Regions from separate parts of the Homo sapiens genome. Here region 1 is linked to region 2. Evidence: fine-mapped expression QTL. Tissue or cell type: fibroblasts. Region 2 holds a variant in brackets; the other region holds the start of a gene. All regions are shown on one strand. Distances are between the middles of the regions.

What was found. PIP is the estimated chance that this variant, and not a neighbour inherited with it, causes the effect.
Region 1: ERBIN starts here. The variant in region 2 is fine-mapped to the expression of ERBIN in fibroblasts (GTEx, PIP above 0.99).

Annotation. Positions count from the first base shown.
Region 1 is chr5:65,920,605-65,935,806 of GRCh38, reverse strand. It overlaps ERBIN (erbb2 interacting protein), which reads right to left and starts at 9,232. Exons shown (of 26, transcript NM_001253697.2): 1 at 9,001-9,232. RefSeq lists enhancers at 9,079-9,298, 9,259-9,883, 10,789-11,008, 10,508-11,132 and a silencer at 9,379-10,468.
Region 2 is chr5:65,853,972-65,869,173 of GRCh38, reverse strand. No RefSeq gene overlaps it. Among named protein-coding and RNA genes, the nearest start is that of ERBIN, 65 kb to the left of the region's middle. The variant T/C (reference allele first, on the strand shown) is at 7,236.

The sequences.
Region 1 (15,202 bases), 67 kb before region 2:
GCTGCAGTGAGCAGTGATCATGCCACTGCACTACAGCCTGGGCGACAGAGCGAGACCCTTCTCCAAAAAAGAATAAAAAAGAAAAACACAACTGCATCAAAATCACTGCACTCATACTGAAATTGAGCAATTATCTCCACAAATAACTTGTCCAATGTAAAGAGTAAAAGTACTGGATTTCTTCCATCCTCCTTTCACAGTCGCCTCAAGAATTACTAAGGAATGAAATATTTCACATAAATGTACTTTATCACGGAATTAAAACTTGCCTTTTTACAGTTTGGAATTTTATCTCTTTAGAAATACTTCAGAAATTAATTGGACTGCAGACACTTCTGGCTCAAAAATGTTTGAACAAATGTTTACCTTAACTTCCTCACACACATAACATATGGAAACAAAACTATTTCTCACTGTTAGAGATAAGTTACAAGTATGGAAAGGGGAAAAAAAACAACTTAGAGTGAACCTGGTGGTGCTGGATTAGAATTGCATTATAGAAATATGCAGATGCTCCTCGATTTACAATGGGTTTACATCTGGATAAACCCATCATTTAAGCCAAAAATATCACAGGTTGAAAATGCACTTAGTACCCCAATAAAACCCCTGGTAAAGTCAAAGAAGTATAAATCAGGGACCATTGTATATATTTATAGATATATAAATAAAAATAGATGTAAATATGTGTAAGTACATAAAAATATTTCCTAGCTTTGTATATGAAGAGGGCCTGAGAGTAACAATACCCTAAAAACAACAATGTACACAAGCCCCAGATCTTGGCTTCTAAGTATCATTTTCCACTAAAAACAACCAGGAAAAGTAGAAGATATGTTAGAACATCTAATTGTGCTAAAAAACAAGGAGTACTCAAAAAAGGAAGAGGTATCAAAAACAAAAAAGAAAATAAGCCAGGGGGTTCTCACTGGCCAATCAAGAACAATTTGAGCACCAAAATAAATAGTAATGCATTATGTCCTTGCGAAGATAAACCTAGGTACATGTAAATAAGTGAATTTAAAATATGACAAACAAAACAAAATATTTACATAGTTTCAAAGCACCTACCGCAAAATATTAGTTAATTACAAACAGGGAATGAATACCTTAAAAAGGGCAAGTCTGGCAGCCACAACTTTAATCACATAAAGTGAATACCATAATAGGACACACTGAAATTGCCTGCCACCTGATAAGACGTAATAAGAAGAATGCAGCATCACTTTTACAATAACCCTGCCAAAGATCTAATCATAAAAATCTAATCAAAGATCTAATCATGAAAAATATCACACAAATGAAAATTGAGGGGTATTCTACAGAATAACTAGGCCTGTCATCTTCAGATCTTCAAAAGTGTCAAGGCCTTGAAAAAAAAGAGAAAGAAATTATTCCAGATTGAAGGAGAATAAAGAGATGACAACAAAATGTAACACATGATTCCAAACTGGAATAGTTTGCTGTAAAACACATTATTGGGATAATTGAGGTTCAGATGTTAGTAATATATTCATGTTTACTTTCTGATTTTGATGGTAATGATGTCATTATATGCAGGAGAATATCCTTGTTTGTAGGAAATAAACATTAAAATATTTAGGGGTGACGGGCTGGGCGCGGTGGCTCACGCCTGTAGTCCCAGCACTTTGGGAGGCCAAGGCAGGCAAATCATGACATCAGGAGATCAAGACCACCCTGGCTAACACGGTGAAACCCCATCTCTACTAAAAATACAAAAAATTAGCCAGGCGTGGTGGCGGGCGTCTATAGTCTCAGCTACTTGGGAGGCTGAGGCAGGAGAACTGGCGTGAATCCAGGAGGTGGAGCTTGCAGTGAGCCAAGATCACGCCACTGCACTCCAGCCTGGGCGACAGAGCTCTCAAATAAAAAAAAATATATATTTAGGGATGACGACAGGGCATCATGTTAGCAACTTAGTCAAATGGTTCAGGAAAAAAAATGTTCAAACTTTTCCATATGTCAGTCATTGTTTCAAAAATTAAAATTTAATTTAAAAATATCTATAGCAGTGCTGAAAACCTGGGAGGGGTATACCTACAGATAAGAACAGAACGGAATTTATAAAGAATACAAAGTAGGCTGGGGTCGGGGAAATAACAAAATGCAATACACTTGAGGAACCAGACACCCAAAACAAGAAGAAAGTGGGATCTCCAAAAAAGATGAGTTTTCTTAGCAAGAAGGATTAAGAGAAGCATATCCTGAGCGGTCAGCCAGAGAGCAAAACCATAGTAAAACACTGTGTAGCTAAAGCCTCTAGTACAGCTCTATGTATGTAGGAGATGTGACACTTGGACAGTGTGATTATGAAAAAAGGAGACTGCCTCCTGAGGAACAGTAAGCACCTGTACCAAAAGGTCAAGCTACCCACATACCTTCAAAGAGAAACTCGTTAAATATTTCTCCCTTTCCTCTTCTAAGCAATCACCAAAGCCAGAAGAAGGATTCATTGGGCTGGGAACATATATTTAAATGACCAATACAGTAGAGACTAGGTCATCATATAAAACTTTGACTACCATGAAAATCTAGTATTTGAAGAAAAAACAAAAAGCATGACATACACCAAAAGCACAGTAAGATCAAATTTTCTGTAGTGTTAGTAGAATAAACAAAAGACAATGTTAAAAGAACATCTCAGAGATTAAAGGTTACATGCAGACCAAAAATAGGGCTAGAAAACCAAAATTGGGCCAGGTGCAGCGGCTCATGCCATAATCCCAGCACTTTGGGAGACCAAGGAGGGAGGACTGCTTGAGGCCAGGAGTTCAAGACCAGCCTGAACAACAGAGCAAGAACCCATCTCTACAAAAAAAAATAAAACATTAGCCGGGCATGGTGGTGCATGCCTATAGTCTCGGCTGAAGGTGAGGTGACAGGATAGCTTGAGCCCAGGAGTCCGAGGCTGCAGTGAGCCGTGAGTATGCCACTGCACTCCAGCCTGGGCAACACAGTGAGATCCTGTCTCAAAAAAATAAAAACAAAAATAACTCCTATGAAAAACTAGAATTCTTAGAAACTCTGTTCCAAAAACAAGTAACAAAATAACTGAAAACAAATGAAAATCAAGTAAGTGGGCTTAAAGATCAAGCTTCAACACTCTCCCAGAATCCAATACGAACAGACAAGAAAAAAAATTTAATTAATGAAAGTTCCATAAATCCCAACTTCCACCTAAGTTCTTGAAGTGCAGTCCATAGGCCCTGGAAGTCCACAGTCTCTGGAAGTCCCTGAGACACTTTCAAGGAACCTTCCAGGTCAAAACTGTGTTTATAATATTGAAATGTCATTTTTCCCTTTTCCATTATATTTACATTTTACACTGATGTTGCAAAAGCAATGGTTGCAACAGCTAACACCTTTACAAGAACAAAGGCAATGCCTTCAAGCTGCAATAGTACCACTACATATTCCCAGGTTTATGTCTTTTTTTTTTTTTTTTTTTGAGACGGAGTCTTGCTCTGTCGCCAGGCTGGAATGCAGTGGCGCGATCTCGGCTCACTGCAACCTCCACCTCCCGAGTTCAGGCAATTCTCCTGCCTCAGCCTCCTGAGTAGCTGGGATTACAGGCGTTTGTGACCACACCGAGCTAATTTTTTGTATTTTAGTAGAGACAGGGTTTCACTGTGTTGTCCATGGTCTTGATCTCCTGACCTTGTGACCAGCACTTTGCGCGGTGGCTCACGCCTGTAATCCCAGCACTTTGGGAGGCCGAGGCGGGCAGATCACCTGAGGTCAGGAGTTCAAGACCAGCCTGACCAACGTGGAGAAACCCTGTCTCTACAAAAAATACAAAATTAGCTGGACATGGTGGCGCATGCCTGTAATCCCAGCTACTCAGGAGGCTGAGGCAAGAGAATCGCTTAAACCCGGGAGGCAGAGGCTGCGGTGAGCCGAGACTGCACCACTGCACTCCAGTCTGGGCAACAAGAGCAAACTCCATCTCAAAAAAAAAAAAAAAAAGAAAGAAAAGAAAGAAAATCTTCCTCCCTTTTCCAACCAAATACCTGTATAAGGCTGGATTTTCTTCATATACTTTAGCCAAAAGAACATACTGTAACAGATGGAGTGAAGAAGCAGATATGAGAATCGAGCTGTTTTCTATTAAGCCAAACATAAGAGACTTGCAAAAATATAAAACATTGCCACTATTTTTGCTATTTATTTTAGAAAACAATTATATTTTTATTAAAACAATGTTACACTAACATGCAATAGCTTATTTTCAAATAAATTAATTTTTTTTAATTTCTGTTTTGAGTCAAACCAAAAAGTCTGAGAACAGCTGCCTTAGGACTATTACTATTTCTTGTAATTATACCATATTATAACAGAGTGAATCCTCCTACAGGGAAATGAAATGTACAAGGCACTTAGCCTCAAAGTAAGTTGTCCCAGATTATTTTCTAAGTTATTCAGTCATCTTTCCATTTTTCTATTGCTTCACTGTAACACCACAGGTCATAACTTCACAATGCTGTAAACGTACCTTTCTCACGCCTTCTGGGATACCAAAGAACCAAAAACAGCTCATTATGTACATAAGTAAATGGGCTCTGAATAATAATGGCCCTAAAAGTGAAGTCCCCAGACTCTGTCATACCTGTTGTGATTAAGGAGATGTCATTTTTTATTTTCTAGTTTTTCTACTACATTCAATATGCTTTTAAAGCTATAATAAATAACCTCCAGATAAGTAGAGTCTTATTAAGTGAATTTTTAGATATTCTCCTTTTCTATCGTCTTCCACAAAGTGAATTTTTAGATATTCTCCTTTTCTATCGTCTTCCACACTATCACTTAAAGCCTGGCAAGACCTTCATTCAATGGTGTCTGGAACAAAATTTGAAGTGACAAAAATAGAGTGATAGAGTACTATTGTGCTTATTTCATGAAATCAAAGAAAGATAATTTCAAAATTTTAGGGATTCTGTGTCAGAGAAGACATCTAACTTGAAAGGTAGGACAGAAGAGGAAGGTACAGAGAAGAAGGAACAGAGAAATATATCTGTATGTTTTAAGAGGCCAAAAGTATAATAAAACAAGAAGGTAGAGAGGGTTACAAAGTCTTAATACATAAGAATAAATAACAACCTGGTATTATCTTAACAGTCAATTTTAAGAACACTAAAGAGAAAAAGGAAAACTGAGAAAACAAAGTATAAAACAAACAATGGCCGGGAGCGGTGGCTCATGCCTGTAATCCCAGCACTTTGAGAGGCCGAGGTGGGCAGATCACGAGGTCAGGAGATAAAGACCATCCTGGCTAACACGGTGAAACCGCGTCTCTACTAAAAATACAAAAAAATTAGCCGGGCACAGTGGCGGGCGCCTCTAGTCCCAGCTACTCGGGAGGCTGAGGCAGGAGAATGGCGTGAACCTGGGGGAGGCGCAGCTTGCAGTGGGCCAAAATCTTGCCACTGCACTCCAGCCTGGGCGACAGAGCAAGACTCCATCTCAAAATAAACAAAGCAATATACTGATGAATATAAAGTTAAAATACCAGCATGTACACTTAGTTGAAATGCAAAGGGGATATTCAGAATTAAATGGGCTAATAAAATAAGATCAGATAAACTTTTTCCACTGCATGTTTTGAACAGTTTTTTGAGGTGATAAACATAGACTAACAGTTTGGAAAAGAGGGAAATGGCAAAATATAATTAAGAACGACCAACTGAACACAGAGAAAATAAGGCTAGGTAAATGAAGCTAACTATAAATATAGGAAGCTAAGGGAATCAGAAGAGAAAGCTGAATAGCAGCTAAGTTTCTTTTTTACAATTAGGAAACCTAAGAAGAGACAGCTAAAAAGTGAATCTGAAAAATGGGAGTTAGCAGTAGGCCGGGCTCAGTGGCTCACACCTGTAATCCCAGCACTTCGGTAGGCCAAGGTGGGCAGATCACCTGAGGTCGGGAGTTCGAGACCAGCCTGGCCAACATGGCAAAACCTGTCTCTACTAAAAATACAAAAATTAGCTAGGCATGATGATGTGCGCTTGTAATCCCAGCTACTTGGGAGGCTGAAGCAGGAGAATCGCTGGAACCCGGGAGGTGGAGGTTGTGGTGAGTCGAGATTGTGCCACTGCACTCCAGCCTAGGCAACAGAGCAAGACTCCATCTCGAAAAAAAAAAAAAAAAAAAAGAGGAAAAGACAAAGACATCTTTAGAGGTTTATAATAGAGATGTATTCCCAGAAAAAGAAAACGGAAGCAAGCATGTAACAAATTCAAGAAATGAATGAGCAAGGCAAAGAGTCAAAATGCAAGCAGCCAAGTAGGGTATGTAAGGAGAATCTGGATAAGCAGCAATTACGAAAAATAAAAAAGAAACTGCTACCCAGCATCACTAAAATTCTGCATAATCCCAAATACTCTGTAAGTACTGCCATAATCTATTTCCAAAACAAAAGCAGCTTAAAGTCTAAATCGTATTATCCGTAAGCAATTATTTCAAATAAGTAATTTTGAAATATACACCTATTTTCTGAAACTTTTAACTATTTCTTAAAGGGTATTATTTACTACTAATAGTGCAATACCAACAATGTGTAAAATAATCGATTTTTGAGATTTGCCAATGATATATGTTAATGTATCTATAGTTATCACTTCATTAAGAAACAGCATACAATAAAAATTTGGTTTCCATGTTTGTACCTCTGTAAGCTTTTTATACATAAAGTTTACAATAGTTTGATCTCAAATGGCAAGGAGACCTCGTAACAGTACTACTTGAATCAGTTGAAGTCCTGAAAATTCATGATTACCTTCAATAAACAGAGCCTTTAAGTGTGTATTTTGTGCAATATAGACTTTGGAAGTACTCTCTATTTGCCAATTTAATCTTTGAAAATCCACACCATACTAGAAGAATATCCAAATTTTGAAGCCATTTAAAAATATTTTAACGGATGACTCCTCTATTAACCTCTTTTCAAACCTTTGTCACAGTTTAAACAAAGCTTCGAAAATACTTATAGTTTCACAATAGTATAAAACCTAAAATTTAAGTTAATTCGGTGATAAACTAACAGAATTCCAAGAAAACTACGAAGTAAATTATGCCTTGTTGAGGAGAAAAAAAAGAAACACAAAGGTGAACACCTCACTTCATAAAACGTGTTGTCTGCATCGAAACATACTACTCTTCTCCTGAGAAAAAAAATCAAGAACTAAATCTAAAAATAGAGGCTTAAATAGTCATTTTCAAGTGCTACAATACTTTTTTTATACAAAATTTACTAATAAATAACCATCTTCATAAAGCGATAATTCTCTGTAAGGGACTTGCTCTATTAAGGTTTTGTTGCTTTTGAAGCCAAGTATAAGCCATATAAGGAAACTGAAGTTCAATGCCATTTATTTTGTTCACCTCTTTCAGATGCCCAAGAATAACCTCTTTTGCAGCCTAATGATACGTTCCAAAATCATAAAGTAGATGAGTTATGCACTTTAAATTCTTTGATAAAGCTAGTTTGACTTAACAAGAATTATTCCATGGTTCACAAATCTTACCAACAATGAAAAAAAAAAAGAATCTCCTGAGACCATGCCCCGGGGAGGAAAAAAAAAATCAAAACTACAGTAATAAATAAAGGACTGCCTTTGGAGATGTACTTAATGAAGCTGAAGTAGCAAAGAACAAATTGTGAAATAATTTGATCCTGATCTTTAAAACTTATTTTTTCTCTTTGAACTAAAGAAAATCAACTCTCTCCTCGGGTTTCCGGTCATTACGTGAGACAGCATAGGCAATCTAAACATCAATATATATTTAGGATATACCTACCAACAGGATTACCAAATTTATTCAATATATATTCAAAAGTACAGTATTGTATTTCACCTCCCTGTACCGCAAAAATACCGGGAAAAAAAGTAAACAGAAAAAGACTAAAACACCACTGAAAAAAACTTTGGGTTTACTGCTATCAAAACTAGTCCCCATTGGTTCAGAAGTGTTCATAGCTCTGACTGGTGGAATGTCTGCCATGCTTCATGAATCCTGCCCCCACAGATGTAGGCAGAACCTATCACTATTTATGCAGAACCGACCAAAAACATTTGGGACAACACAAAAATGTAAAGACCATACTACTCGAAAAGCACAGCTTTTTATCACAATCACTGTGATTCCCTTGAAAATCGTTTTAAGCGTTTTACTTCCCCTCCCATCGTCTGTTCTGAACTGTACAGAAGTCCTATTAAACGTCTTACAGGTTGTTAATGTTGTTTAATTATCTCTCCCTATTCTTAGTCCTTACTCCTTTTTTCTTCGTAATGGATCAGTTACAAGAAAAGCCTAGTCGATCCTTGCTTTCAATTAATTAAACAAGTTATACGGCGCTAAACGTCTGAAAAACACACACTACACACAACTAAAGAAATATATTACTCACCCTGAAAAACAACTAAGAATGGCAAGATTTTTTGGTTTCTAAAATCTAACTAAATATACTGATCAGGGTTGGAAATAAAAAAATAAAAATAAATACCTCTATATACAATTAACGCAAGCGCCAATATAATCGGTATGAGTATAAACAAACGCGGCAGCCATCTCAATAACAGCAAATCACTCACTGCAGCGACCAAACTTTCTTCCCAAACAGAAGGTGCCTGGCTGAGCAACTTAATATACACTCTATACGTTCCAGAAAGCCAAAACTTCTGGCCCCTGTGCTGAACAAAGGCAATCGTTCTTCGGATTACTAAAAACTTTTCGTCCCACCGCATTCTTACAACCTCTTCCAAAAAATTCAAAGTCCAGATGGTGGGGGGGGCAGGGGGGAGAAGGGACGCGGTGGGGTGCAGTTCGATTATTTAGCCCCTCAATTATTAACCGCTTCGATATGAGAAAAGGAGGGTTTAGGGCAACTTGGAGAAGAGTGAAAAACACTAAAGAATCATCTCTTTTCCGAGTCACAAAGTCCCATGAACTTTGTGACTCAGAGACACTTTTCGTGAAAATTACCTTTCGGCGGGACACCGTCTCAGGGCAGCTTTTTCAAGGCTTCGCTTGACATGATTTCCTTCCCTTCATCAGTCACTTTGGATCCAGCTGAATATCTCTCTCGGGTGAGAGCGGATGTGGACTGGCCTCCCACAGAAGAAGAGTAGGTGGCTTTGGTGGGGGTTGGGGTGCGGGCTGGCTTCCTGGTCTCGAGTTTTGCAGGAGTTTCCCAGCCCCAACGAGGATCTCCGCCGAAAAAAAAAAAAACAAAACTTTTCACTCGTGACACCGCCCGGAATTGCAGTGCGAAACTCACTTCCTGCCTTGGCGAGAAGCAGGATCCAGCTCCGTCCAGGGGAACCCGGAAAACCAGCTCCGCGCGCACCGGAGAGGGGGAGGGGAGGGGACGGCCGCCGGGAGCCTCGGGTTCCGGGCAACCGGCGCGCCCGGCACACCGGACGGCAGCAGCACCCGGCCGGCGGGGGCGAGGACGCTGCCCGGGCGCTCGGCGAGCCTCGGCCGCGCTAGGCCGCCACCGCTTCCTCTCCGTTGCCCCCAGAGCCGGGCGGCAGGGTTATTGTCTCGATAGCGCTTGCCGCGCCCTTCGTCCGCGACGCCGCTGCCGCCGCCACCCGGAGCCGGAGCCGAGGAGTCGGGCAGGCTCAATAGCGGCCCCCTCCCCGGGCCGTCCGTCGGGCCGTCCGTCCTTCCGTCCGTCCCTCCCCGCTTTCCCTACTCGCCCTCGAACCCTCTTCTCCTCCCTCTCCCGTTTTCCCGCCACCGTCCCTCCGCTGCCCTGCTTGTTCTCCTTCGCCAGCGGCGGTGGCTCCCCGAGACGCGCAGGGGGCGGGAGCAGGAGGCAGCTCCGTCTCCTCACGAGCTTGCGGGGCCGCGGCAGGGGCCGAGACTGCGTCCCGCGCCGCCGCGCCACATTCACTCGAGCGAGAGACGGCGAGGGGAGGGAGGACGGAGGGAGCGGAGAGAAAGGAGGAGGAATGGGGCAGGGGCGGAGGGGAGTTACTGCCTCACAGGCCGCGGCGGCAACAGCGCCACCGCCCCGGCCGCGACGGGTGAAGAGGCTGCGCGCCGCGACTCTGCGGCGGGGGCGGGGGCGGGGCGGCCTCCCGCCGGCTTCGCCCCAACCGCCAACAGCCGGGCAGGAGGCCTGCGCGGGCCAGTCAGCGCGCGGGGGCGGTGCGGGCCGACGTCGGCGGCTGGGGGCAGCGGGCCGGGGGCCGGGGGAGGGGCAGCCGGCGGCCGTGGGTTCGCGTGCAAGGCGCGCCGTGAGGCCCACTCTGGCCCAGGCCCCTCGAGGCCTGCCCGCTGCTCCCTGCCCGCTCCCCGACCCCGCACTCCCGGACTCCCGAGCCCCCCAGGGTGGGGAACGCTGGCAACGCCGACCCTGCTGTCTGCTCGCGGCCCAGCGCCCAGCCAGAGAGATAGAGAGCCCACAGGCCTCCGCCGCGCCGGCCGATGGAGTTTCTTTGTACGACAGTAATCGGTGCACAGGGGTTGTTGGAGTCCAGCCCTGATTTGAAGGCAGCAGGTATCTCTTGCAGCTGCAGCACTCCAACTTCCTCTAATGGCACGGTCAGGTCGCAGGAAACCACAGCGGCAGCGCGGTGCAGCTTCCCACGCCCGCCCTTCGAGCTTGTTCCCCAGCGGCGCAGCTCAGCCTCCTCCAAGTCTCAGCCTCATACCGGCGGGGAGACAAAGCTGGCGCTGGGAGTGGGAAAAGGGCCCGCGAAATGGCCTCAAGATCGTGCCTTTGTTAGAAGAAACATGGGTACGCTCCGATGCGACGCAGGCTTCCAACCCCAGCGGTTCGGTGGTGGTGCAGTCGTTGAATTGCGCTGGCCCTAATAATTCAGCCTGGCAGGGTTCGCGTTTATTGCGGAGAGAGACTCTTAAGCATTCTGTCAACACATATGGCAAATAGAAAGCCTCAACCATAACATTGCACAGTTTTTGCAGTTCTTGCTTTAAATATGTTCACAGAAAAGACGGCCTTGTTTTACCCAGAGAAGGAGCGTAATGCGGAGCGAACCATTCGTCACCCCCATTCTCTGCTGCACTTAACTGTGTACAGTGATGATAATTAGCCTCTGGGTCCCTGAAGTCCCTGGTTCAGTTCTTCCGTCTGTATTCTAGAGATAATTATTTATTACCAAGTTTGAATAAAGAGCTATATCCCCTACAGACCTTTTTTTTTTTTTTTTTTTTGGCTTGCCAATGGAAAGAGTTCATAAATTCCACCAAGTAATCATTTACCAAAATGAGTTGTACATTAGTTGCAAACACTTGAAATAACGCCGAAGATATTCAAGTCATTTTATTCAGGTTGGGAGCATTTTTAACTACTTGAAGAACTGCTGGAATTAATACAGATGTTAGGTTATTTAGCATACAGCAGAAGTTGAAGATTTACAGGTAGTACTGAAGTGTTCAGATATATTCAGTGCTGAATTAGAGGTAAGAGTATTCGCTGGAAGCTAGGAAATGGCAGCAGCTATGCCAGTGTTACCAAGCTGGATATCTATGTGAAAATGAATCTTAACCATTGCATAAAAAGCTAAAGTTAGCATATTGTACAAGCTATTTGTAATCATCGCTGGGAAGATTTCTTGCTCCGTTTTCAAAAACCGTTTTGCGCCTGATCAGAACTCAGTGGCATAGCTCTGAACTGAAAGGGTCACTCTCCTAAAGCATCCCAGGATGGAATATCTCCCATACTAGTGGAAAACCAGCTAGATTCTGGGATTCCAGTGTTGCTTCTAATCTCAGGTTGATTCGAGACCCCTTTAAATGTGATGCCATAGATTCGAGTAAACCTAACCCTCCTCTCTAAACTTAACTGATCAAGCCACTGCTTTAGGCTAAGACTTGCCCTGGTCCTAGCCTTTTTAAAATTTATACTCACACTCAGGACCAATCTGACAGACTACCATCTAGGCTAGAAAAGTACCTATAATCAAAAACCCTCCAACTCACCTGAAATTCTGCCATTAGAGTTTTATCCCTTTAAGTAGTTTTTTTCTCTAGCACAAAACCATAATCCTGGGAAAAGTAATATTTTAATCCTTATTAGTCATTTATACCTAATTCATCAGATTGTTTCCCCAAAGCAGCTTTTGTTGGAAGGGAAAAATAGAGATAACTAGAGATAACATATGCTGAGGCTGAGTTGATAGGAGACGGAAATATAGTCTCATTCCTTGGAGCGTTATATAGAGAGTAGAGGATTACAGGCAATAAAAGGACCCTTTTGATGGCTAAATAAGTCCTGCTTACTCATACTGTAAGAATGAGCCACCTAATACACTGGCCTTAAGAGGATGGAATCTGGCCGGTTGCAGTGGCTCGCACCTGTAATCCCAGCACTTTGGAGGCTGAGGCGGGAGGATTGCTTGAGCCTAGGGGTTCAAGATCAGCCTGGACAACATGGTGAGACCTTGTCTCTACAAAACCAAGAAAGGAGGATGGAATCCAGGATACACTTGTCAATACAGTTGACCCTTGAATAATATGGAATTTAGGGGCACCAACCAACTATGTGAGCATATAACATTTGACTCTCCCAAAACTGAACAACTACTAATAAGCCTACTACTGACCAGAAGCCTGATAACATAAAACAGTTGATTAACACATTGCTTGTATCTTATATGTATTATGTACTGTCTTCCTACAGTAAGTAGAGAAATAAATGTTATTAAGAAAATCATAAGGAAGAGAAACTACATTCACAGTAATGTACTATGTCCATACCATAAGTTTACATTGTCTGTTTACAAGATGAATTGTCTGTCTGAAATACCAGGCAACCTCAGCTGCAGGCCTCAGTCTATGGTACATATCAAGCAGTTCAACTTTTTCTTGTAATGTCATGACTTTGCTTCATGGGAACACTTCCAGCATCACCAGTGGTGCTTCGTATGGATGCCATAGTGTTATTAAAGTTTTGCAGTATTGCACTAAACATGATGGAAAATACGTGAGAACCATGAGAGAGAACTTTTTACTGCAATACGCAATTTACTGGAGAGATGAACTGCTCACTCAGAGATGATTAGCATTACACAGCTTAAAGCGAATACTGGCAACACTTAAGCTCGCTGCAATTGCACCAAGCAGTGGCTATGAAATTATTACAGTAGTACAGTTTGCATGACAGTTAATTTTATGCAGTTATGATTTAATACTGTAGCTTTACATTTGTTTACATTTCTCCCCACTACAAATAGCACCATGTTTGGTCTGTAAGTGTGTGCCTACATTTTGATAAATTTTAACTTTTTATGATAGGTTTGTTTATATTTTATGGTAGTAAATGATAAAAATAGACTAGTGTCTACACATATTTTATGCATTCATGACATATATAAAAATTTTCAGTATTTCTAGGCTACACAGTTTGCAAGTTTTTCAAATTGTTGCAAATCTTCAAAAAAAAGTCCAATATATTTATTGAAAAAAAATTGCATTGACCAATGCAGTCAACCCTGCGTGGTCAAAGGTCAACTGTAGTTACCTATTTTGTCAAATATTTCCTTAATAATCTGTTTAAAAAGTATTTTCTCTGGAATTCTGCATCTGTGTGCATACAGAAGGGTGAAATGGCAGGTATATGATCAGAGTGTTCAGCAATCACAAACAACAATTCATCTTTGTTATTAATCACTGAGTATTTAATTTTGTTTCATATAAGCAGCACACACAGAGCCAAATCTTCCATTTATTCTACAAGGTACTCTCATTCTATGCTTTACAGATTAGTTTCCTTTGAAAATCCTCCCGCAGGACGTTACACTAAGATGGACTTAACTTTTCAGTTATGATTAAAGAAGAACTAAAACCCCACCTTAAACAAGGCTGCCTGTGAGTCTGCAACAATTAACTGAATTCCAAGACCACCTTAGAGAGTAAGTTAACTAATGTTTATTGATAGTATAGCTTCAAGTTCCCTGTTGTGATTCTCTGAATGATTCTCTGTGAAAGGCAGAAAATCTTTTCTTTGGGATTCCCCTTCCCAATGGCTGGGCTCAGGAAAGGAATTACTGTCTGCTAGAGATAAGCTATTTCAACTGAAGGAAAGCTTAGGGCCTTAAGCATTCCAAGGAAAGTACACAGCATCCATCGGGGGGAAAAACTGCTCTAAGGGAGAGCTCATCCACTTTTAAAAAGGATACCCCTGTCACTTCCCCATACCAGCCAAGCACCTGCACAGGAGCATTGAGGAGACAAAAATAGAGGGCAAGGACAAGTTTGGGATGATAATTCTTCTTTTCTCCTTTACCAGACCCCTAGTAAAGAACTGGTTACCTAAAACCAGTTTTTAGTAGAGTAGTGTTTGGGAAAAGTGAATCTTCAGGCTAGAATAGGGTTAGATTTGAATGAAGTCTAGAAACATTGGTTCAATTAGATCAAAATGCACTATAACATGTATTTTTAATAGGGATTTGACTTCCCCCTTTTTACTTCCATCTTAGACTCTTGATAGAGAGGCCAGGAGGTTAGGGTGGCAAGTATGCAGGAAAGAAGTTCTTTGGCTCAAAAGAGGCTGTACATGCAAGAACCAATATTATGGATTCTGTAATACTTTGAGAATGGAATCACCTCTCCCATAACATGTTTCGACATTTCAAGCATATTTTTTAAAATATTTTATGCATCGCATGGAAAGTCTGCCTCTATTTGTGAAAAGCTTTTGGAAAACTGATTTTTTTTCCTCTTGTATATGCTTAATAATCTTTTTTTCTATGCTATATATTTTGTAAACTATCAAAGCTGAATTTCTTTCAGATGTCTTATGAAGTTTTTAAATATGGGGAGAGAAATAAATAATGCATTATGATTATTTGTGTGGCTTCTGAAACAAGACTGCTTGAATTAGAAACTTGGCTACTTGAGTGACCTTGAGCAAGTTCCTGAACACCTATAAACATATACTTGAGCATCCTCTTCTCTAGAAAGGAGATTATAATACTGCCTTACAGATTATTAGGAAAACTAAATGGGACAATGCTCATAAAGTATTTAACGCAGTATCACAGTGCTTGGCAGACTCAAAAGTATTAGCTATTACTAGTAGTGCACTCTTTTTTTAGAGACAAGGGTCTCACTATGTTGCTCCAAGCTGAACTACAGTGGCTCTTCACAGGCACAGTCATAGCACACTGTGGCCTAGAACCCCTGGGCTCCAGCGATTGTGCCACCTCAGCTT
Region 2 (15,202 bases):
TGGATGGTAAAACAGTAATAGCTAATATTTATGGCCATTTTGTTTGCATCAAACATTGTGCCACGTATTTTACATGCATTATCTCGTTTTAATCAGTTCAACAACCTTCTGAGATAGAGAGCCACTATTATTATCCCAGTTTGCTAATGGAGAGAATATATATGCAAATTTGCTATTAGAATTGAAGAACAGGAAACTTTTTATTATACATTGTTTTATTCTGCTTAATTATGTAATTTAAAGGTCCTGTGAGGATTATTTTGTCAGAGCCAGTCCCATTAAAAATAATCGTTCAAGTAGAGATTGGGGAAAAAAGAGTTGTCAGGGCAAAATTATGCTTAAAGTATGTTTGCACATTCCTTTTTTTTTTTTTTTTTTCGACAGGGTCTTACTCTGTCACCCAGGCTGGAGTGCAGTAGTGCAATCAAGGCTCACTGCAACCTCTGTCCCCCAGGCTCAAGTGATCCTCCCACCTCGGCCTCCCAAGTAGCTGGGACCACAGGCATGTGCCACCATGCCTGGCTAATTCTTGTCCTTTTTGCAAAGACCAGTGTGATGGTTAATACTGTTAACTTCATTGGATTGAAAGATACAGAGTATTGATCCTGGATTTGTCTGTGAGGGTGTTGCCAGAAGAGATTAACATTTGAGTCAGTGGGCTGGGAAAGGCAGACCCACCCTTAATCTGGCGGGCACAACCTAATCAGCTGCCAGTGAATATAAAGCAGGTAGAAAAATGTGAAAAAGAGATGGGCCTAGCCTCCGAGCCTTTATCTTTCTGCCATGCTGATCCTGCCCTCAAACATTGTACTCCAAGTTTTTCAGTTTTAGGACTTGGACTGGCTCTCCTTGCTCCTCAGCTTGCAGACAGCCTATTGTGGGACCTTGTGATCATGTAAGTTAATACTTAATAAACTCTCATATATATGATATATATATGTGTATATATATGATATATATGTATGTATATATGATATATGTGTATATATGATATATATATATAATATTTTATATATCCTATTAGTTCTGTCCCTCTAAGAGAACCCTAATACAACCGGGTTTCTCCATGTTGCCCAGGCTGGTCTTGAATGCCTGAGCTCAAGTGATCCGCTTGCCTCGGGCTTCCAAAGTGCTGGGATTACTGGCGTGAGCCATGGCTCCGGCCTGTTTGCACATTCCTTTGATCTCACACACTCTCCCAGCTTGTAGAATAAGACGACATGCCGCGAAAAACTTGAATTTGGGGGAGTCATTGTATTAGCCAGGTACTGTCCAGTTTGAGTAAAAATAAATTCGGTTTGGCAACTGCACAGTAAATAATAAACTATTCTTAACACTTAGTAACACATCATCGGTTTTCCAAAGATAAAAACGGTGTTGGGGTCAAAGAAGTATGTTGTTTCAGGGCATATGTTGCTATTAATAAAACATTCTCTCTGCAGGAAGTATACACAGACAGCTCACAAAAACAGGAAAGTCACTCAGGAACCTGGTTTAAAACTCCTGGTCTGAACTCATGAAATTGCCCTGAAGTCATAGAGAGTAGATACCACAAATTAGAAGTCAAATGAAGAGCATAGTTTTTTTCATACTTCAACTGGTACAATTCTGTACTTTCAATCCTGTGAAGGCAGATCTAGAGAGACTTATTAATAGAACTTTTTACACCAATCCCTTCATTTTGGGGATAAAGATACGGAGAACAAAGTTAGATAACATCTAGTGTTTTTGCCTGCTCAAATCCATTTCCCCTTCTGGTAACAACCCATCCCATGGAATTCTGGGGGCTGGACTCTTTCCCGACTCAAGGTCTTTTTAGTGTAGAGAGGGGTGATCTCACCTCCAGCTTCAGGGGTGGGCATGTATCAGGCACGGACAAACAGGGTCACATTAACGCACTCACTGACAGGTATGCGGGAGATCTGAATTGATTTAGTACAGAAGGAAAACTAAACCCAAGACCACACAGTTAATGCCAAAGCTAGGACTATAGCCTGAGTCTCCCACCTCTAAGACCAGTGATCTTTTCATGCTACCATGCCACAAAACATACATAAGTTAAAAAAAAGTTCTTACTAATTTAAAAGGTAGCTGTATTTCAGTGCTAATATACCAGACTGTCTCAGGTCTGCACGACTTCCTGTTTGTATGTTAGGTACCTGGAACATAAGCCCACATTTCCTTCTATGTCCTTAAAGAGAGTAATGATTTATAGCAGGGTAAAGAGGGTACAATGATCATTTACTTTATATTCAATGTTCCTCTAAGGCCACTTATAAAAATTATCTTATGCCACCAGGATACCACTATTCATTTTAGACAATTAATGATTACACTGTGACTTATAACCATTTGAAAAGGAGGCTGGGAAAAAATGGGAGCGAGTATAGTATTACATAATGCTTAGAGTGGTCCTATGGGAGTGACTGGATTATAGGTAATTTCCCCCTCATTCCTTTATTTTCCTGGTATGGGGGTAATATAATATTTCAAAAGTAAATAAGCTGATACTTTTGTAGCAATCTGATTATTCAAAGGCCAATTAACTATGCTTCAAATTATTCAACCCCTTTGCTACTCTCTCACAACTCCCTCCTGTTTCTGTTTTGGCTGTTCATTGCCTCCTTAATTCTATCTAGGAGAAAAAGTTGTGAGACTCAAACCAGACAATATTCTGCCTATTTCAGGGCTTAATTTTCATAAGAGTACCTGTGAGAAGGTGTGGCTGGATCAGGGCCAGTGACCAGGGCGCCCAGGAAGACTGTGAACACCCAGGAAAGCCGTGAGCAATAAAGAGGGACAGTTTAAGAATTATCCATATCGATTTTTAATTAACCATAGTAACATGCCCTTTTATGACCTCAGGAAAGTGGGAGTTGGCAGTACTGTACTTAAAATTATATTTGGTTGTCACACCAGACCTCAAACACAAAATGTCTAAACTGAATCCTGTATCTTTCCCTTCCTGAAACAGTTACGCACTCCATCCCCATCTCTATGCATGACTTCCATCATCCACTCAGCCAGAAATGTGGAACTTATCCCCAACTCTTCCTCACTGGCTATACTTAAAAATCATCAAGTCCCTCTTCTGTCTTCTTCCCCATTCTCATGGTTGCTACCTCATCGATTGCTATCTGGACTAATGCAATTAATAGTTTCTCAGCCACCAGCCTCCTCCTTCCTACAGTCCTTCACAATGATCTTTCAGATAAATGGCAAATCCATTTTGAGAGTGAAGGAGAGAAAGGACTCAAGGATCACTCCAAGGTTTCTAAACAAAGCAGCTGAGTGACTAATGATGCCATTATCTGTGATACGGAACAATGGAAAAAGAGGTCCTAGAAGAAGACAACAAACTCAGTTTTGGACACGTTGAGCTTGAAGTGCATGTAGTGTACACGTCTATCCTATAATAAAACTTACCAAATGATAAAGTAATGATCATTTGGTTTGGGAGTGTCTTTCTGTTCTTAGATTGTAAGTGTTTTAAAGGTACAAATCAATCTTTATTATATATTCAGCACTTTTCGCAGTGCCTGGCACAATAAATGTTTGTTAAGTTGCAATCCTTTCTAAATTAATATATGTGGGAGCTTAAATTGCTATGTATTATATGAGTTTCAGGCTAGAGGTGGTGGCTCATGCCTGTAATCCCAGCACTTTGGGAGGCTGAGCTGGGAGGATTGCTTGAGCCCAGAAGTTCAAGACCAGCCTGGGCAACATAGCAAGACTCCATCTCTAAAAAAAAAAAAAAAAAAAAAGTTAGCCCCGTGTGGTGGTGTGCACCTGTAGTCCCAGCTACTCAGGAGGCTGAGGTGGGAGTGAGGTGGGAGGATCTCTTGAGCCTGGGAGGTCTAGGCTGCAGTGAACCATGATTGTGCCACTGGACTCCAGCCTAGGCAATAGAGTGAGACCTTGTCTCAAAATTAAAATAAAATAATTTTCATTTAAAAAAGTGTAACTCATATCACAGACCGAGGGCTAATTCCCTTAATATATAAATAATTATTATAAAATAAGAAAAAATAATCGAAGAAAAATACACAAACAATATAAACAGCTTACAGGTCAGGAAATAAAAATAAATCTTTACATATGGAAAGACCTTCCTTATATTAAGGGAGATTTAAGATTTAAGGGTACAATGAGATACCATTTTCCACCTAAGACTAGCAAGAATTAAAATGTCTACAAACTCATTGTGTTGGTGAAAGTGGGGGAAAACAGGCTTTCTTATATAATTAAGGCAAAATTTTAAATGCCCAAAGCTGTTTTCATCCTACAGATATATTCTTAGATGTGCAAGTTAGCATACTATGCAGTCATTTAGTGCAGGGGTCCCAACCTCTGGGCCATGGACTGGTACGGGTCCATGGCCTGTTAGGAACCAGGCTGCACAGCAGGAAGTGAGTAGCAGGTGAGCCAGCATTACGGCCTGAGCTCCGAATTCTGTCAGATGAGAGGCAGTAATAAATTCTCATAGGAGCACGGACCCGTTTGTGAACTGCACATGTGAGGAATCTAGGTTGTGTGTTCCTTATGAGAATCTAATGCCTGATGATCTGAGGTGGAACAGTTTCATCCCAAAACCATCTCCCCAGCCCCTGACCTCTGTGGAAAAACTGTCTTCCACAAAACCAGTGCCTTGTGCCAAAAAGTTTGAGGGCCGCTGCTTTAATGGAATGAAGCAGTTCAACGTTACTAATATAGACTAATCCCAAAGATAAATTGTTTAGTGAAAGAAGTAAGGTGTAAAGGAGTTTGGATTGTGTAGTAGCTTTGGTGTAAAACACAAGACTATACATACATATACTTCTATATACAAAGTATGTTTCCGTAAGAAACTGGTAATATGGTTTCCTCTGGAGAAGAGAACTGTAGAACTGAGATGTAGATAAGAGAGAGACTTTTCACTGTACACTCTTTTGTGCCTGCTGAATTTTGTGCCATGCAAATATGTTAAGAATTTTACCAAAAGTAGAAGTATGTCTACTCTACGACCCAGCAATTCCACCCCTTGGTATATACCCAAGAGAAATGAGTGCATATGTCCACCAACAGACATGTACAAGAATGTTTGTAATAACTTTTCTCATCATACTAAAAAATCGAAAAACCCCTAAATGTCCATCAACAGGAGAATAGATATATAAATTGAAGTATATTTATTTAATGGAATACCATACAGTAATAAAAAAGAAAAAAATGATGACGCAACTGAACAGGAAAATAATGTTGAGTTACAGAAGCCAAAACAAAAGAGTAAATACTGGGTGGTTCTGTTTATTTCAAGTTTAAAAATAGGCAAAACTTATAAATGGTGATAGAAGTCAGAATAGTGGTAACTATTCTGGCAAGAGTAGGCTAGGAGTATGGGGCAAGAGGATATTGACTGGGAAGAGATAAGAGAAATTGTGGGGTTGCTGGGAGTGTTCTGTGTCTTGAGCTGGTGGTGGTTAAATGGGAATATACCTATGTTAAAAAAAAAAACTGAGTTGTACACTAAAGCTCACTAAATACACTAAATGTATTTTACTGTATGTTATACTTCAATAAAGACATTTTTAAGGCATGAAAAATACACCTTACCAATTTGAAAAAAGTAGATAAAATACTATTAAACAATTTACCTAAATATCAAGTGACTTCTCCCTTTACATTGATAAAAGTCAATGTGGCTGTGTGTGGTGACTCACACCTGTAATCCCAGCATTTTAGGAGGCTGAGGCAGGTGCATCACCTGAGGTCAGGAGTTTGAGACCAGCGTGGTCAACATGGTGAAACCCTGTCTCTATTAAAACTACAAAAAATTAACCTGGCATGGTGGCAGGCACCTGTAATCCCAGCTACTTGGGAGGCTGAGGCAGGAGAATCGCTTGAACCCGGCAGGCAGAGGTTGCAGTGAGCAGAGATCACACCATTGCACTCCAGCCTGGGCGACAAGAGCAAACCTCCATCTCAAAAAAAAAAAAAAAAAAAAAAAAAAGTCAATGCAACTTTCATACTAAGAACCAATAAAAAAAAATAGGGAAACTGCTAGGGATTTCTTTAAACTAAAGAGAGAGAAAAGTAAAGCAACTATTGATTGTAACAATAAAATTCTGATTAAACCAATTATAAAAAACAAAATGAAAGAATTATCTATTATGACCTTAAGTTCTCAAAGACTGTAACATAATGCTTCGGCCCATCAGGGGCTAAAAAAATTCTTTCGTAAATTTGTTAAACAACTTTTAGAAATGTAAGCGTATAGGAGAAAGCTTTGACTGACATTTTTTCAGGGGATGCCATAGTAACCGAGAGAGAGTTCAGTTTGTTGAAAAGTGGTAGTTAGACTTGGAAGGGACAAGGGCAATGTGGAGTAATAGGGTTTATCTGGTCCACAGAGAGGTAGAACAGTGGTGATCTTTGTAGAGAAAAGGTCAGAAGAACCAGGTAGTCAGGAAGAAGAGAGAGAGAGGCAAGAAAGAGACAAGGCTCTAGGCACCCAGAATGTTTAAAAGTGAACAAAAAAAAAGGTATGTGATACTATAAAACAAATTGCTTTAGGATACATCAGGAAAGCTCAAGAATGAGAGGAGGGAGGGGGACAGTTACCCAAAGTGAAAGCAACAAGTCCTGCTTTTTAGACTTTTTCAGTTCAGGAAGGTGCCAAAGGCAAGTATTCAGGTCAGCCCTCTGCACTGAAGGATTTCAACTTCTAGTTTATTAGGGTTTTTTCCCCCTAATAAGTTACTTCTCTGATTAAAAAGTAATAGAAGCTTATTGTAGAAAATTTGGAAAATGCAGAAGAATATTAAGGAGAAATAAAAAAATCACTCAGAGATGAACACTGTAACATTTTGGTATAGTACAATTTATTTTTCCTTCCTTCCTTCCTTCTTTTTTTTTTTTTTTTTTTCAGAGTCTTGCTTTGTCACCCAGGCTGGAGTGCAGTGGCGTGATCTCAGCTCACTGCGATCTCAACCTCTTGGGCTCAAGTGATCCTCCCATCTCAACCTCCTGAGTAGCTGGGACCACAGGTATGCACCACCATGCCTGGCTAATTTTTGTGGTTTTGGTAGAGATGGGGTTTTGTCATGTTGCCCAGGCTGGTATAGGGCAATTTCCAGCAAACAGAGAGCAGCAAAATGTCAAGTCAGTGAAAGGCTCCCTTGCCTTGGGAACACAAATGTTGTTTATTCTTGGAGATTCATCATTTTATTTTATTGGTGCATTTTTTACTAGAAGAT[T/C]CATGACGGCAGAAAATTTTGTCTGTGTTGTTCATTGCTATATCCCCAGTGACTAGCACATAAGTGGCATTCCAGGAATATTTGTTAAATTACCTTTTTTTTTTTTTTCACATTTACTTAGGAAGATTAGCTGCTATTTCTTATTTTTTCCCTTCCATAATTAAAACATTTTAAATCATTTTCATGATCCATTTCATGACTTTTCTAATTTACCAGATCAATCTAGTCATTAAGTAGATCTATCTGTTGAAGTTGGGAAAATGTCAAATGTAAACTAAAGCTTTGTGGTTTATATGAGTGTCCCCATTTTATTTCTTCTATGAGGCCTTTTCATGCACTATCCCTGAAAACTCGCAAAAACGATTCCTTCCATTCTTTATGTTAATCTATTGTTCATATAATTTATCAAAAAGAACTCGAGGCCTGGTGTGGTGGCTCATGCCTGTAATCTCAGTGCTTTGGGAGGCCGAGGCAGGAGGATCGTTTGAGGCCAGGTGTTCCTAAACCAACATATTCAGATCCTTATCTCTACCAGACCAAAAACAAAACAAAACAAAACTTAGCTGGGCATGGTGGCATGCACCTGTAGTCCTAGCTACTGAGGGAGGAGGATCTCTTGAGCCCAAGAGTTTGAGGCTGCAGTGAGCTATGATTATACCACTGCACTCTAGCTTGGGGACAGCATGAGATCCCATTTCTATTAAAAATAATAATAATAACTTGAAAATCAATTTAACATCTAGGGCATTACAGCTTATTTTTTAAAGGAAAAACAGGATTTTTTTAAAAAATTTATGTTGGGATACTATATTTTTTCCCTCCAAAGCAGGGGTGAGACCTCTTGGCTCACTGCAGCCTCCATCTCCTGGGATCAAGCAATCATCCCACCTCAGCCTCCTGAGTAGCTGGGACTATAGACACACGCCACCACACCCAGCTAATTTTTAAACTTTTTGTAGAGACAGGCTCTCCCTATGTTGCCTGGGCTGGTCTCAAACTCCTGGGCTCAAGGGATTCACCTGCTTTGGCCTCCCAAAGTTTTGGGATTACAGGCATGAGCCACTGCATCCAGCCAGGACTTACCTTTGAATAGTGAAACATGATCAAGGAGATTCCATGATGTTTAGAAGTCTATGAAGGAAGAAAGAATATTAAATATCTTGCAGTAAAATTTTTCAAGGAGGGCAGATGAAATTACTCAAGCTTGAAATAGAGCCACAACTCTGCAGTCAACAGTCTCACTGTTGGAACTAAAATAAGACCCTTGAAATCCTCCAGAATCAGAGGTAGCCAGGATCCTTCAAACACCCCAAGCCAACAAGGCCTCAGTGCCCACAACATAGTTATTTGTGGGGTGGGGGATAACAAAAGAATCACACAGTTAAGCAAAGAGGGGTTTTATTTGTTCACATAACTGGGAAGTCTGGAGGTAGACCTAAGCTAGGCATGGCTGGGTTCATATCAGGGTTCTCTCCCAGCATCTACATGATCAAATCTCAGGAGAGACTGATCGGTACTGCTTGGAGCATCTACATATTTGCTGGAGCAATAATACTAATCAGAGAATAAGTGATTTGAATTGGCAAGGCCTGGGCCACATGTCCATCCGTATGAGTAGAAAGTGGGATCAGCCTCACTCAAAATAAGTGAGGTGGATTTTCCATGAGAAAGAGGGGTTCTGTCAACACCTGGAGTAGGAAAGGGTATTAGTGACAACGTCAAGCCCTGTGCCCCTGGAAAACAGCAAGGATCAGGAAACCATCTCCCTCCAACTTTTTTGTTTTGTTTTGTTTTGTTTTGAGACAAGGTCTTGCTCTGTTGCCCAGGCTGGAGTGCAGTGGTGAGATCTTGGCTCACTGCAACCTCCGTCTCCTGGGTTCAAGTGATTCTCCTCCCCCAGTCTCCCAAGTAGCTAGGACTACAGGTGCACACCATCACGCCGGTTAATTTCTGTATTTTTAGTAAAGACGGGGTTTTGCCATGTTGGCCATCTGGTTTCAAACTCATGACCTCAAATGATCTGCCTGCCTCTGCCTCCCAAAGTGCTGGGATTACAGGCATGAGCCACTGCGCCCAGCCTCCCTCCAACCTTTGTGTTCCAGGAAATGACTTACAGCAAATAATTGCCCTTCCCCATACGACTTAGAGACTTGGAGTGACCCCCTTGTCTAACTATGACAAAGCCATATAGAGATCCTCTAATTTCCCATTCTTTGACTCATAAATGATTAGCTGACCTGTTTGTTTCCACAGGCCAATCTGGACAAAATGCCTGCTAACTGGGCTAAACTTTAGTCAGGCCTCTGTCATTCTTCCAAGTCCCTGAACTTGGCCCACCCTTAAACATTAGAGCTAGGAACAAGCCCTCCTTAATGGCCCCTACTGAGACTAGCGTACCCAGCAGGGGGAACTGTTCCCTGACGCACCGCAGGATAACCTGCTCATCCTGGTAGACCTCACCTGCTTCCTTCCAGCCTGCTTTCCTCCTCCCTGTAAAAGAAAAGCCCTTTTCTGCCTGGTCTTGGAGATGCTTGCAGATCTTACAGTTGACCATCAGAGCATTCTCTCTATTATAATAGTCCTCTTCCTCTTACTGCAATAACCCTTTTGAGTAAAGTCTCACTTTACCTCTGTCCAGATTTGCTATTTGACCCTGGCCAGAGAAAACAATAGATGTCTACCACAACACACTATTATCCAGTTGGATGGGGCTTGAGGGGATGAAAATTAGTTACACCCTCCCTCTAGCTCTCAGTTTTGAGTCAGTGGAGACATAGAAGCAGGGAATCTGGGAGCTCAAAATGTCAGTCTTAAAAAGGAAGGAAGTTCTGACACCATGCTACAACATGGATGAGCCTTGAAGACATCATGCTAAGTGAAATGAGCCAGTCACAAAAAGGACAAACACTGCATGGTTCCACTCCTATGAGGTATCTAGAGTAGTGAAAATCATAGACACAGAAAGTAGAATGGTGGTTGCCAACGGCTGGAAGGAGGGGAAAATGATGAATTGTTGATTAATGGATATAGAGTTTCAGCTTTGCAAGAGGAAAAAGTTCTGGAGACTGGTAGAGATTGGTTAATGCAAATATAATTAATACTACTGAATTGTACACTTAAAAATGGTAAGATGATAAATTTTATGTCATCTATTTTTTTAAACCACAATAAAAATTATTTTTTAAAAAACATTAGTTCACAGCTAATAAAGCTGGTTGGAGAATGTGGCATAGTCTGTGGCCAAATGGGCTTACTGATACTCACTTCCCTGAATTAAAATAAACCTCTTCTAACTTCAGTCCTTTTTGCAGGGCAGGGCTTACTCTAGGAAACTTATTGCAAGGTAAGTCAAGTCCTTAAGGTCTGGCCACTCAGAGAGAAAGAGGGGCTGAGTCACACATTTAGCAATTCTTTCCCTCAATCTTGCCAAAGAAGGTGCTTTTTCCCGAGGAGAGAGTGAGACAAGGGAAGAAGCCCAAGCATCCCAAGCTGTCACTCGTGGGGAGCAGACAGAGAGCTGAGGGGATAAGCATTCACCCCTAACCAGTGTGTTGAAAGAAAAGCTGGGTACCTGTAATCCCAGCACTTTGAGAGGCTCAGGCAGGTGGATTGCTCGAGCCTAGGAGTTTGAGACCAGCCTGGCCAACATGGTGAAACCCTGTCTCTACTGAAAATACAAAAATTAGCCAGGCATGGTGGTGCGTGCCTCTAATCCCAGCTACTTGGGAGGCTGAGGCACCAGAATTGCTTGAACCCGGGAAGCAGAAGTTGCAGTGAGCCAAGATTGTGCGACTGCACTGCAGCTTGGGCGACTGAGCAAGATTCTGTCTCAAAAAAAAAAAAAAGAAAAAAAAAAGAGGAAGGAAGAAAGAAATAAGGAAGGAAGGAAGGAAGGAAGGAAGGAAGGCAGGCAGACAGGCAGGCACATTAGGGCAAGGCTCTCATGCCTGTGATCCCAGTGCTTTGGGATGCCAAGGCAGGAGGGCTTGAGACCAGGAATCTCAGACCAGCCTGGGCAACATGGAGAGAACTCATCTCTACCAAAGCAACAAAACAAAATTAGCCGGGTGTGGTGCTGAGAGCCTATAGTCCTAGCTACTAGGGAGGCTGAGGCAGAAGGATGGCTTGAGCCCAGGAGGTCAAGGCTACAGTGAGCTATGATAGTGCCACTGCACTCTGGCCAGGTGGGTGAAAGAGCAAGCCCTGTCTCTAAATAAATAAATAAAAAGAAAGACGATATTAGAATATAAATTTGAAAATTTATAAAGATGATAAAATTTATCATCTTACCATTTTTAAGTGTACAATTCAGTAGTATGAATTATATTTGCATTAACCAATTGTATTCACAGTATCACTAGGATAACAGGATGTAAAGTGATCTTTCTTTTTTCTAAATTAAACAAATATTATTGTTATGCCTTTTAAAACATAATTCTGCTAACATCAGAAGTACCACATTTATAATAATTTGATACACACAATTTATTAAGTGGCTAAAAGGGAAAAAACAAAGAGAATTATTAATGTACAGTTCACATTTTATAATTATGCTAATTATTTTCTGGCTTTTTCTCATGTAAGGTTCATTAATATCATCAGTGAAGCTGAACAGTTTCAGAATGCTTTTAATTGACATTAATGCCAAAACAAAAGGATAATTTTCCATCGTAAACATTTATCTGATCAACATGTTTTCATTTGAAAAAGAAATACATTCCCCTCAAGCACAAAAACTTTAAGATCAGATACAAGTAGATTAGATATATTTGACTGGATGCACATTTTTAAAAATATATATAATTTAACTCACTATAGTGCTAAGGACCTTCCTAGAGATATTGGATGTGCTTCCAACATCTCTATGGAGAAGGTAGTGTAGATTTCATTTTGCTAGTTTATCAGATGAGAGTAAAAGAAGCGTATTGTGCTAAATTATGTGCTTCAGACCATACAACTAAGGAGTGAAATAGCTGCATGTAAAACTCCATTCTCTTTTCTCTGTGCTTTTCAAAGAGTGTGTGTTTAATTATAAGCTTTTCTGCTGGGCACGAAGGCTCACACCTGTAATTCCAGCCCTTTGGGAGGCTGAGGCAGGAGCATCAGCTGAGGTCAGGGGTTTGAGATCAGCCTGGCCAACATGGTAAAGTCCTGTCACTACTAAAAATACAAAAATTAGTTGAGTGTGGTGGCGTACCCCTGTAATCCCAGCTGCTTGGGAGGCTGAGACAGGAGGATGGCTTCAACCCAGGAGACAAAGGTTGCAGTGAGCCGAGATTGCACCATTGCACTCCGGCCTGGGCAACAGAGTGAGACTCTGTCTCGAGGAAAAAAAAGAGCTTTTCTCTCTCATTTAATGTAATGAAAGGTTATCTATGAAGGTTGCAGTTATTCACAATCAGATTTTAAAGAGAAAAATTATTCATATTGTGTGTAAATTATACTTCAATTAAAAAACTTTTTCAATATAAAACAAAGTCAGAGAAAACTTTTCTCTGTGGGAACTTCAGGCAAATGAATGAGTACATTCAGAGTAGGCTGCAGTATGACACTTTGGATAGCACAGGGCAAAAATATTATACTTTGCATCTTTAAAAAAGAGGTCACATAGATACTGCTATGTCAAAATTGTATATCCTCTATCAGCCCAAAGCACATTTGGCTTGAATAATTTCCACATCCTCAGAGACATTCATTCTCTAAGGAATCAATCCATTTAGGAAATTATGTCCTAGAACTTGTACTAAAAAATGAAGGGGGCTTATCTATCACACTTGTTTTGAGAGGAAAATGGTGTGCTTTAGATAAAACATTACAGTGACCAAAATACCTCCCATCTGTCAACTTTATATTCCTCTCATTCACTTTCACATCATGCACTTGGTAGGACTCATAGGAGAAAAGCAGACAAGAACCTATTTTTACTGCTGTTGAAAGCATGCCAGTTTGGCAAGGGTGTGGAGCAGTGGGCACTCTCATGCACAGTAGGAGTATAAATTGGTTCAGCCTTTCTGGAAGGTAATTTGGCAATATACAGGATGTCAACATTTTAAATAAGCATATCCTTTGGCCCAGAAATTTAATTTCTGGGAATTCATCCCACTGAACAAATTGGACAAACATGCAAAGATATACATAAAAGGCCTTCATGAAGCATTGTTTACAATAATGATAAATTAGAAATCACCTACATCTCTATCACTAGGGGACTGATTAAATACATTATGGTAGATCTGTTCAGTGGAGTATTTTGCAGTGCATTAAAACGACCACGTGGCCGGGCGTGGTGGCTCGTGCCTGTAATCCCAGCACTTTGAGAGGCTGAGGTGGGCAGATCACCTGAGGTCAGGAGTTCAAGACCAGCCTGACCAACATGGAGAAACCCCATCTCTACTAAAAATACAAAATTAGCCGGCCATGGTGGCGCATGCCTGTAATCCCAGCTACTCAGGAGGCTGAGGCAGGATAATTGCTTGAACCCGGGAGGCAGAGGTTGCAGTGAGCCAAGGTCACGCCATTGTACTCTAGCCTGCGCAACAAGAGCAAAACTCCGTCTCAAAAAAACCAAACAAACCAAAACAAAACCATCATGTACACTTGTGTTTATTGCTAAGAAAAGGTTACAAAACAGCATCTGGATTGTGAAAAGTTTTCTACATGCATAGGAAGAAGCCTGGAAGGATGCATAACATAACATGATTATCTCCGGGTTTCAGGGTTTCAAATGATTTTTACTTCTTTATTCCTTTTATGTTTGTTGAAACTGTCCCATCAGCATGTATCACTAGTTTAATCATAAAATATACGTCATAGTAGTCAGCTTGGGCTGCCATAACAAAATACCACAGATTGGGTGGCTTAAGCAACAAAAATTTATTTCTCCCATTCCTGGAGGCTGAAAAGTCCAAGATCAAGATATCAGCTGGTTTTGTTCTTGGTGAGGGCCTTCTTCCTGGCTTGCAGATGGCCTGTTTTTCACTGTGTCCTCACATGGTAGAGACAGAGAGTGAGAAAGACAGAGAGAGAGAGACAGACAGACAGACAGACAGACAGACCAAGAGCCTTGTACCTCTGCCTGTTCTGCTTTTTTTTTTTTTAGGGTTTTTTTTTTGTTTTTTTTTTTTTGAGACAGGGTCTCACTCTGTTGCCCAGGCTGGAGTACAGTGGTGCAATCATAGCTCACTGCAACCTCCAACTCCTGGGTTCAAATGAGCCTCCAGCTTCAGCCTCCTGAGTAGCTGCCACTACAGGCACACACTACCACACCTGGCTAAGTTTTATTTTTTATAGAGACAGGATCTCACTTTGTGGCTCAGGCTGGTCTTGAACTCCTGGCCTCAAGTGATCCTCTCACCTCAGCCTCTCAAAGTGTGGGATTACAGATGTGAGCTGCTGTACCCAGGCTCTGCCTCTTTTTTTTTTTTAGACAGGGTCTTGCTCTGTTGCCCAGGCTGGAGTGCAGTGGCGTGATCTCGGCTCACTGCAACCTCCATCTCCCAGTTCAAGCAATTCTCCTGCCTCAGGCTCCCGAGTAGCTGGAACTACAGGTGCCCACCACCACGCCCAGCTAGTTTTTGCATTTTTTTAATAGAGATGGAGGTTCACCATGTTGGCCAGGCTGGTCTCAAACTCCTGACCTCAAGTGATCTCCCCACCTTGGCCTCCCAAAGTGCTGGGATTACAGGCATGAGCCACTGCGCCCGGCTGCTCTGTCTCTTCTTATAAGGGCATCAGTTCTATAGGATTAGGGTCTAACCCTTATGATGTCATTTAACCTTTATCACCTTCTCATAGGCTCTATGTCTAAATATAGTCACATTGAACGTTAAGGCTTGAACATATGAATTTTGTTGATGACATGTCTTCTGGCTTAAAAAACAATTAAGACATGTATGTTAGGCCCTTCTTGCATTGCAATAGAGAAATAGAGCATGGCGGATCTCGGCTGTAATTGTAGGACTTTACGG